Homo sapiens: one gene and its partners. The protein of the gene in region 1 interacts with the protein of each later gene in a biochemical or structural test. Each region holds a gene or a part of one and is shown in the gene's direction. Other genes may lie near its edges.

Region 1 (2,445 bases):
AGCCCTGCCCGTCGAAAATCATTGCATCTGTGACTTTCAAAGTGGAAAAAAAAATGTTATTTTTTTGTTGATTTGTAAAGAGAGTTTAAATGTCATGTGAAAAAAAATAGAATGTAGTAAAATTCTATATATTTATGAAATATTTTAAAGGCATATTTTTTTAAATATCAAACGGGGCTATTCATAAAATAAACTGATTGTATGTCAAGATGTCCTAATTTAAAAGAGTAGTTTTATAAATCATGGTCAACATTCCATGTAAATATTTGAGCTTTACAAAGATAGATCCAAGTGTGCGATCTGTGCACTGCACATTTGATAGCATTATTCACTGGTTTTCCTTCATACTTGTCAAGTTCATATTAGAAGCAGAGACAAAAACCACTCCAATGGCCTTGACACATAGTCACACCAAAATAGATAATCAGACTAAGTATTATATAACAACGTGATCCAGACAGTGAGTTCTAAGTGTATTAATTAAATAGCAAAAAATTTTGTTTTTAAAAAATGAAAGAGGGAGGGTTGCCAACCTGAAGTCTTAAGTAGATTGTTTGGGTAGCATATTTCCTTCTTTGAACATTGTCTGAAATTTTCTATAAATCAAGACTTCTTGTACAAAGAATGATGGGACATATGTAATAATTCAGGCAATCACCTGAGTAATTTAGGCAGTCCAAATTCTTTACCCTGAAATACCCACATTTTAAAAAAATTGCAGATAATTGCTTCAGTTATTTACTTTGGGGACAGAGATATAGTGTAAAGTGGGAGAAACTGAGTCCTTTTTTGGTGGTGGTAATAATAAGATGTTATAAAAATATAACATTTTAAAAAAGAAAGGTCCAGACCTTAAGCGCAGAGCTAGAACAATATTTTTTAAATAATGGGGGGAAAAGGGGGCACTTTGGTAATTTTAGAAATCAGGTAGTATACTTTTTTTTTTTTTTTTGAGACAGGGTCTTGCCATGTTGCTCAGGCTGGTCTTGAACTCCTGGGCTCAAGCAATCCTCCTGCCTTGGCCTCCCAAAGTGCTGGGATTACAGGCATGATCCACCGTGCCCAGCCGGTAGACGTGGTCTTAAAAACAGTGTTTACATGGCCATCTTGATGCTTAGAAAGATAATTGATTAAAATTTAATAAGGCAGGGCCAACTCCGAGAGTTCATTGACAACGGCAGCAAAAAGGCCCTGAATTCTGTACTTTCTTCCCCCAGCCTCCTTCTCCAGCAAGGAGAATAGCACTCCTCCCTCCAGAAGCCAGCTCCCTAAGTTGGAGCCACTATGTAAGAGAAGAGGAACGTTCACTTTTTAAAATTCATATATTTAAAAATCAAGACCAAAAAGTAAATTCTGTACTCCTATTATTGACTGTAGTCAATCAAACATAAAAAGGTGAAAGTAAAATTTAATTTTTTACCCTTATTTTACTGACCAATATGGAAGTTCTTGGTATCTTTAAGGCTGACCTTCCTGGTATTGTGTAATGATTGAATGTATCTAAACTGTAATAATTTGAAACTGACAAACATAACCTTCTCAGACTTACAAAACTATGTTCTTTCTAAAGATACAGATTTTTATTATTTTATTTTGACTAGGAAGGATTTATAAATAAATGTAATGAAAAATCTTTGATCTTAATAAAGTACCTTCAAACAGTGTGTGTACTTACTTGAAAATTGTTTTTGCACTTGGATATTCTATTTTATTATACTACTATTGTGATCTATTCCATTATACTATTTCCCATGGTAGAACAAATTATATTTTCTACTGTGATATGAAGTGATGTAATTGAACTTGCCATGTCTAAAATTAAATTTCATATTTTTTTCAATCAAACACTGCTTTCATCGAGGCTGTTGGAGAGATGGAATTCACTAGTGTTGTTCTTACCCATACATTCCAGCAATTTAAAAATGTGGAGAACCTTAGTGGGAAGGAAGAATTAGGACCATCAATGATGGGAACACACCTCCCCCACTCCCCACCTCCTCTCCCTCCCTCCCACTAGGAATCAGTGTCACACATATCCTCTTCCTGAGCTCCAGTTAGGCGAAACTCAACTTTTTCAACTGTGCATATAGGAACAGATTGTCATCTGCTATGCAAACTAGCTAGCATTGGCCTTGCTTCAGTCCTCGAGCCAGTTAGCCCCAGCTGTGCATCCATAGAAAGGTTGCTCTGAAGAGCATTTAAAAGCATTTAAGAGCATGGGATCTGGAGTCAGAATTCTTCAGTTCACATTCTGATTTTGCCTGTTTCCAGCTCTGCAGCCTTGGGAAAAACACTGAACCTCTCTGTTTTTCATTTTCTCATCAGAAAAAAATAGGGACAAGAACAGTGATTACCTCATGGGATTGGTGTGGGCATGAAATGAAAGAATCCATGTATACTTAGAACAAAACCTGGGACAGAAGTGTTCAGTAATTGTGAGCTCCT
Region 2 (3,659 bases), on another chromosome or scaffold:
TGGATGGATGAGTGAATAGATAGATGGATGGATGCGTGGATTGATGAATGGATGAATGGATGAGTAAATGGATGGAAGGGTGGATGAGCGAATGGATGAATGGAGTGAATGGATGGATGGATGGATGATGGGTGGATGGATGGATAAGTGGATGGATGGATGGATGAGTGAATGGTCAGATGGGTGGATGAGTGGATGGATGGATGGATGGATGGATGGTTTGGATGGATGGATGGTTTCGGTGAATGGACGAGTGGATGGATGGGTGGATGGATGGATGGATGGGTGAATGGATGGATGGGTGGATGGCTGGATGGCTTGGGTGAATGGATGGATGGGTGGATGGATGGATGGATGGATAGATGGATGAATGAATGGATATATGAATGAGTGAATGGATAGATGGATGAGTGGATTGATAGATGGGTGAGTGAGTGGATGGATGGATAGGTGGATGGGTGAATGGATGGATGGGTGAATGGATGGATGAGTGGATTGATGGATGGATGAGTGAATGGATAGCTGGATGGATGAGTGGACTGATGGATGGATGAGTGGATGGATAGATGGCTTGGATGAATGGATGAGTGAATAGTTGGATGGGTGGATTGATGGATGGATGGATGAATGAATGGATATATGGATAAGTGAATGGATGGATGGATGAGTGGATTGATGGATGGGTGGGTGAGTGAACTCATGGATGGATGAGTGAATGAATGGATATATGGATGAGTGGATAGGTGGATGAGTGAATGGATGGATGAATGAGTGAGTGAGTGAATGGACAGATGGATGGATGGCTGATGCGTGAATGGTTGGTGGATGGATGAGTGGATTGATGGATGGATGAGTGAGTGGATGGGTGAATGGATGAGTAAATGGAGGGATGGGCGGAAGGATGGGTAGATATGTGGATGGATGGATGGATGGATGAGTGGATGGATGGATGCACCCACAGGTGGGTGAAGGAGGAATGAACGAATGAGTGGATGGACAAATGGATGGATGAATGCACACATGGGAGAGTGAAGGAGTGGAGGGATAAACATTGGCTTCCCATGTGTAAGCTTCATCCAAAACCATCTGGACACTGGGCCCAGGAAGAGGCTGTCTCAGCTCCTCGGCTGAATTATTTCCTTAAATTACTGCAGAGCCTCCAGTGAGCAGCACACCTACTTCTGGATGACAATGGCTTTAGAGGCGCCGCCTGCCAAGGAGTGGCAGACTTAACCTGCAAAGTGGGATCATTGACAAGCAATTGCAGCATCGGCTCAGAGCACTTTGGCAGATCTGGGCTCAGCATGGTGAGCACCATCTGCCCCACACAGAGCTCTCTCAGGAGTGGGTCATGTGCCCAGAGAGAAACCACGCTCACCTGGCCTAAAACATGCTCCACTGTCAGCTGAAATCTTAGCTATGCCTTAGCTATATGCCTTCTGGAATAAGACAGACAAACCCAGCCCCATCCTGATGTTGCCAGACCTCGGAAGATGCAGACACACCCTGGGCAGGCCCTGACTTGGTGCTGGAACTGCCCAACCTGGCACCCTCCTGGGACACAGAATAGAACTCGGGTCACAGGCAGCCAATACCCTTAGCATACCAACCACTTTTAGGAGCTTGAATGGTCTCATCCGTCTTATCGAGGTAGCCCAAAATGCTGGACTTTGCAGCAGCCAGCGCTCTGGGCAATGGAGGAGCTCTCTCCAGTTTAATATTCATTCAATAAACATTCAGTGCCCATCACGCCCTGTAGGCAGTGGGGATCCCACTTCAAATGAGACCCAAATATCCCATGGGGCAGCACTCCTGGGCACCAAGGACCAAAGACAGTCAGGAAGCCATCCCTGGGGCAGAGGGGGCAGCCAGCCCTGTGGGTTAGGGGGAAGCATGTCCAGGGAAGGGATAGCCAGAGCGAAGTGCCCGAGGCAAAAAGTGTGGATGAGGGTTAGGGGGAGAGTGTGTGTGTGTGTGAGGGGCAGGGGGAGTGTGTGTGTGTGAGGGGGCAGGGGGAGTGTGTGTGTGTGAGGGGCAGGGGGAGTGTGTGTGTGTGAGGGGCAGGGGGAGTGTGTGTGTGTGTGTGAGGGGCAGGGGGAGTGTGTGTGTGTGAGGGGCAGGGGGAGAGTGTGTGTGTGTGAGGGGCAGGGGGAGAGTGTGTGTGTGTGAGGGGCAGGGGGAGTGTGTGTGTGTGAGGGGCAGGGGGAGTGTGTGTGTGTGTGAGGGGCAGGGGGAGTGTGTGTGTGTGAGGGGCAGGGGGAGTGTGTGTGTGTGTGAGGGGCAGGGGGAGTGTGTGGGTGTGTGAGTGGCAGGGGTTGTGCATGGGTTTGTGAGTGGCAGGCGGTAATGTGTGGGTGTTTCAGGAGCAGCGGGATGTGTGTGTGTGTCTGAGGAGCAGGGGACCCTGTGGAGGATAAGCAGGAGCAGCAGGTGGTCCTTGCACTCTGGCCGTGTGATGACCATGTTCAGCTCTGGGTTGCTCCCTCACATTGGCGAGTGCCCTTACAAGCCTGAGCTCTGGGCTCCCTGTTCTATCCGACTGCCAGCCTTCCCTTGGGGCTGGCTGTGTGTCAAGTCCATTTCCAAAGTGTCGTGTCGTCAGTCTAGGAAGAATTGAGATGGAGCCTGGGGCCGTGTCCAGGTGGAGTCAGGAGAGCAGCCAGGGTGCCCAAGGGGTTCCCGTGTGTGCACCGTCCACAGGGGCCTGAAAGGAAGGAGGGAGGGGCGGGCAGAGCAGGAGGGGCTGTGGGAATTCCACAAATGGGGAGCGGCACATCCTGGGAATGGGCCTGGCCGTTTGTGCTGCTGTGCTGGGGGTGGTTAGGGCTGTGACAGAGACTCCAGGCTGATGGCATGGACTCTGGGGTGGGAGACCGAGAAATCTCCCCATGGACTCTGGGGTGAGGAGTGGGGGGCCGAGAAATCTCCCCATGTCTCCCCATGGAAGGCTCTGCCTTAGGGAAAGACCAGGTGACCTGTGCCAAGCTCCTGGTCCCTGGAGGGCGGCCTTTGAGTGCATCCCCGAGGGCTTTGTGCTGGACCATCCCAGCCGGGACCCCCTATCTGGCTCTGGGAGCCAGCCCTGGGGAGGGACAGAGCCAGGGTCCCCTTCTGGACTGTGCAGGGCTAGGGCAGAGGGAAGGAGCGGGAGCCAGGGACGCACTGGCAGCTTCCTCCTTTCTGGTGGATCGGGGAACCTGCAGGCTCACCGCCTGCTGAGCTGTCATGCCAAAGTCCAAGGGTTTGAGTTCTTTGTTGGGAAAGGGTTTCTTTAAGCCTGAATGGGAAAGTTGAAAATGCCTGTTTTTAAGAGCTTTGGGGGTGACACAAAGTGTGGAAGAACAGCAGCTACTGCGGGCTCCGTCCTCAGATTCAGCCCCAGATGTTTGGTGCAGAGGACACGGGGCTGACCAGACGGTGAAGGCAGATTCCCCTTAGAACCCGGCCCTCATGGGGCCCTCAGCGGGCCGTACCACTCCTTCCCCACCTACTGGATGTGGGAGCCACTGGGCAGGACTGCCTGAGGGGCCACAGTGAGCAAAGCCCCCGACAGGCAAGACCCGATGGGCCTCGGGGGGCAGGGTGGGCCCCAGGAAGGGGGAGCCAGCGGCCACTGGTCTTGGGTGACTCTGCAGAGGTGAGGAGGGAGGGCACAGGCC
Region 3 (3,659 bases), on another chromosome or scaffold:
TTTTACCCCATTTTCTGGTAGTTCTAATACCTGGATACACAACGTCACAAAATCAAAACACAAGAAGTCTAATGGTATTATTTTTTATCAGGACATTTATGGGTCAGTTAGACCTAGGACTCTCTATGGTGTCTACACGGACAGGGAATATATGGGTTGTGAACCTCCAATAGGACAGAAATTAAGATTATAAATGAAAGTAATTATAACCTTTCTCATAAGCTGTTTAACATTTCAATGTTTTAAAATATACTTGTGGTACTAATGAAACATCCAATTCCTTTTGTTATATTCCTGTTTTCAAAAAATGCTTTCTGAAAACCAAAAAAAACCCCTCATGAGTAATTGTTCTAAGATTAACAAATGTATCCTTTCCAAGAAGGGTTTAACTTTATGGTGGCACATCCCACAGGTTTGCACCTGATCGATTTTTTTTTTTTTTTTTTTGAGACAGTCTTGCTCTGTCACCCAGGCAGGCTGGAGTGCAGTGGCACAATCTCAGCACACTGCAAACTCCACCTCCCAGGTTCAAGTGATTCTCCTGCCTCAGCCTCTCAAGTAGCTGGGATTACAGGCGCACACCATCAGGCCCAGCTAATTTTTGTATTTTTAGTAGAGATGGGGTTTCACCATGCTGGCCAGGCTGGAACGCCTCGGCCTCCAAAAGTGCTAGGATTATAGGCATGAGCCACCACGCCTGGCCTCAACTTGATTTTAACAAGTAAACTTAACCCCAAAGAAAAATGTACAGTTGGTGGCTGGGCACAGTGGCTCACGCCTGTAATCCCAGCACTTTGGGAGGCCGAGGTGGGTGGATCACGAGGTCAAGAGATCGAGGGGATGCTGGCCAAAATGGTGAAACCCAGTCTCTACTAAAAATACAAAAATTAGCTGGGCGTGGTGGCCTGCGCCTGTAGTCCCAGCTACTCAGGAGGCTGAGGCAGAAGAATCGCTTGAACCCGTGAGATGGAGGTTGCAGTGAGCCAAAATCATGCCACTGCACTCCAGCCTGGGTGAGAGAGAGACTCCATCTCAAACACAAAAAAGAAAAAAGAAAAATGTTCAGTTGGACAGGTAGACTGAATGTTAGCACTCTTTCTTCCTTCATAGTTACCTTCCATTCCCTCCAAAAAGTCCACAAGAAACTGGGAGCCAAAGAGATTAAACCAGGAACACAAATATTCCTAGCTTCCAAATGTAGAAAACTGAAATTCAGTTTTTTTTTTCCAACATCTACTTCCCAAGTTCAAGTGATTCTCGTGCCTCAGACTCCCAAATAGATGGGACTATAGGTGCGCACACCGTGCTGGCTAGTTTTTGTATTTTTTAGCAGAGACGGTGATTTCACCATGTTACCCAGGCTGGTCTCAAACTCCTGAGCTCAAGTGATCTGCCTACCTCAGCCTCCCAAAGTGCTGGGATTACAGGCATGAGCCACCACACCTGGCCTTTGAAATTAAGTTTTTTGGTTCTGTTTGATGCAACTACACCTACTAAAAAGGATGGAAGAGGGTCTACCAGAGCAAGAACTAGAAACTGAAAAGAGAACTTAAATTTATTTTTGGCTACTAAACAGTTCATGAATTCGTTCATTCAACTAATTTACATGGAGAACCTACTTGTATGTTGGGCTCTGCACTTGGTATGGAAGATTATAGCAAAAATGAGACACAAACTCATCACTATTAGGGGAATTACTCAAAGCAATATTATACTGATGATGGTTCATCTTTTTTTTTTTTTTTTTTTTTTTTTTGAGACGGAGTCTTGCTCTGTCACCCAGGCTGGAGTACAATGGCGCGATCTCGGCTCACTGCAAGCTCCGCCTCCCGGGTCCATGCCGTTCTCCTGCCTCAGCCTCCCGAGTAGCTGGGACTACAGGCACCTGCCACCACACCCGGCTTTTTTTTTTTTTTTTTTTTTGTATTTTTAGTAGAGACAGGATTTCACCTTGTTACCCAGGATGGTCTCGATCTCCTGACCTCATGATCCACCTGCCTCGGCCTCCCAAAGTGCTAGGATTACAGGCGTGAGCCACTGTGCCCAGCCTGGATATTTTTAATTGGATTACTTTTACTTTACCAAAAAATTAGTTGATTTGTTTGATCACTGAATTGACCAGTTGTCTTGATATTTTGCTTAGAGAACCTTAAGGCTAGCCAAAAATTGTTACAGAGTTGTAAGACTTTTGCCTTAAAAATGACAAAATACATTAGCTAAATAGATTCATCCCAAAGCAAATTATTTGTACTCAGATCTTGTGTGCTCCTACAGAGCTTTGGGTAGGGACTGTGTTTTCCACTTTGTATCTCCCACTGTGCTAAGCACAGTGAAACGCAAAATACACACTACTTAATCAATTAGTTCTCTTATAATTTTCATAAATCCCTGATTTTATTCTCAAATAGAAATAATTTTCTGCTGTTCGGATATAAATCCTAAAAGATGTCTGCTTAAATACAACTTTATTAAACAGGAATTAATGCTATTTTACAAAGCTTTTTCAAAGCCTTACACATACCTTTCGTGGAGTCCATCAGGATTTTGTGCCACGAGCTAAAAAGAGAAGAATTTTCCAGTCTAATATGTGTTTACTGCTGTTGGTGCCACTTTTGAGCAGCAGGCATAATACCCTGCAGCTACTGCCAATACAAGTGACTTCATGTCTATTCCTGTTTTACTAAAGGACAATCTGTACTCTGTGCTCCCATTTCAAATGCACCAGGGAGACACATCACCCTTTGTCATAAAATAGTCATCTGAAAAATGAACCACCATCAATTCCAAGTCTAGCTAATTTTCATAAATAATACTTGTTGAATAGTCCCATTAATTCTGGGCTTCTTGCTAGAGTGGTAGTATGTTAGTGCACTGTACTTTAAGGGCTTAAAAGCTGAATATATAGAACTTACCAGGGCTGTTCAAATACAGCCAAAATAGGAATGTTCCTTTCAACTGTAACTACTTAATTCTGCTTCATTCAAGCTAACAATTGCATGTAAACATTCTTACTTTGTTTTAATTTCAAGCAACACAACTCAGAACATGCGCGACTGCAAGTTCCTACATCACAAGTAAGGTAAAAAATTTTAATTTTAAAGAAATGTATGTTTTCCTATCTAAAATATTTTCAGCTTAAAAATGTAATATTTATAAAGCCCTCGAGCCTACTCTATACCTTTTGAAAAATACAATGTGTATTTTCTAATGTCTGAGAAGATGACCAAAATTTTGACGTTCATCATCAAAACTATCACAGGGGAATTTTTTAATGTTTTGGTCAAATAAGCCAGGATCATGCTTCTATATTAAACAATTTTCTCATGACAATGGAGACCTAATTCTTATTATACAATCTTTGGTGGTAAGAATAATCTGCTGGGTACTGGGCATTTTAATAGACCATTTCTTCATCAATTCATGGCACTGTAAAAGAGAAACTAAGATGTACAATTTGTACCAGATGTTTCTAAATTGCTACCATTTCTAATAGTCATCAAATATGCCACAGGTAAATACAGCCCTAAGGCCTCTCTTCATTGTTATTACACTATCAGATCAAACAGTAGATTCTGTGGTTTCAAATTTGATGGCTAGGCTGGACGCAGTGGCTCACACCTGTAATCCCAGTACTTTGGAAGGCCGAGGTGGGTAGATCA

What was found.
Region 2: the proteins of MPP7 (region 1) and SLC9A3 interact in a test that uses a peptide from one of them, tested with the Homo sapiens proteins (one large-scale study listed by IntAct).
Region 3: the proteins of MPP7 (region 1) and MYOT interact in a test that uses a peptide from one of them, tested with the Homo sapiens proteins (one large-scale study listed by IntAct).

What each region holds. Positions count from the first base shown.
Region 1 is NC_000010.11:28,050,393-28,052,837, reverse strand, and holds the end of MPP7 (MAGUK p55 subfamily member 7), read left to right. Parts: 3' UTR 1-1,845; downstream 1,846-2,445. UniProt on the Homo sapiens protein: Acts as an important adapter that promotes epithelial cell polarity and tight junction formation via its interaction with DLG1. Involved in the assembly of protein complexes at sites of cell-cell contact.
Region 2 is NC_000005.10:514,373-518,031, reverse strand, and holds part of SLC9A3 (sodium/hydrogen exchanger 3 isoform 1 precursor), read left to right. Parts: intron 1-3,659. UniProt on the Homo sapiens protein: Plasma membrane Na(+)/H(+) antiporter. Exchanges intracellular H(+) ions for extracellular Na(+) in 1:1 stoichiometry, playing a key role in salt and fluid absorption and pH homeostasis.
Region 3 is NC_000005.10:137,877,787-137,881,445, forward strand, and holds part of MYOT (myotilin), read left to right. Parts: intron 1-2,521; exon of another isoform or gene 2,522-3,029; coding exon 3,030-3,079; exon of another isoform or gene 3,080-3,659. UniProt on the Homo sapiens protein: Component of a complex of multiple actin cross-linking proteins. Involved in the control of myofibril assembly and stability at the Z lines in muscle cells.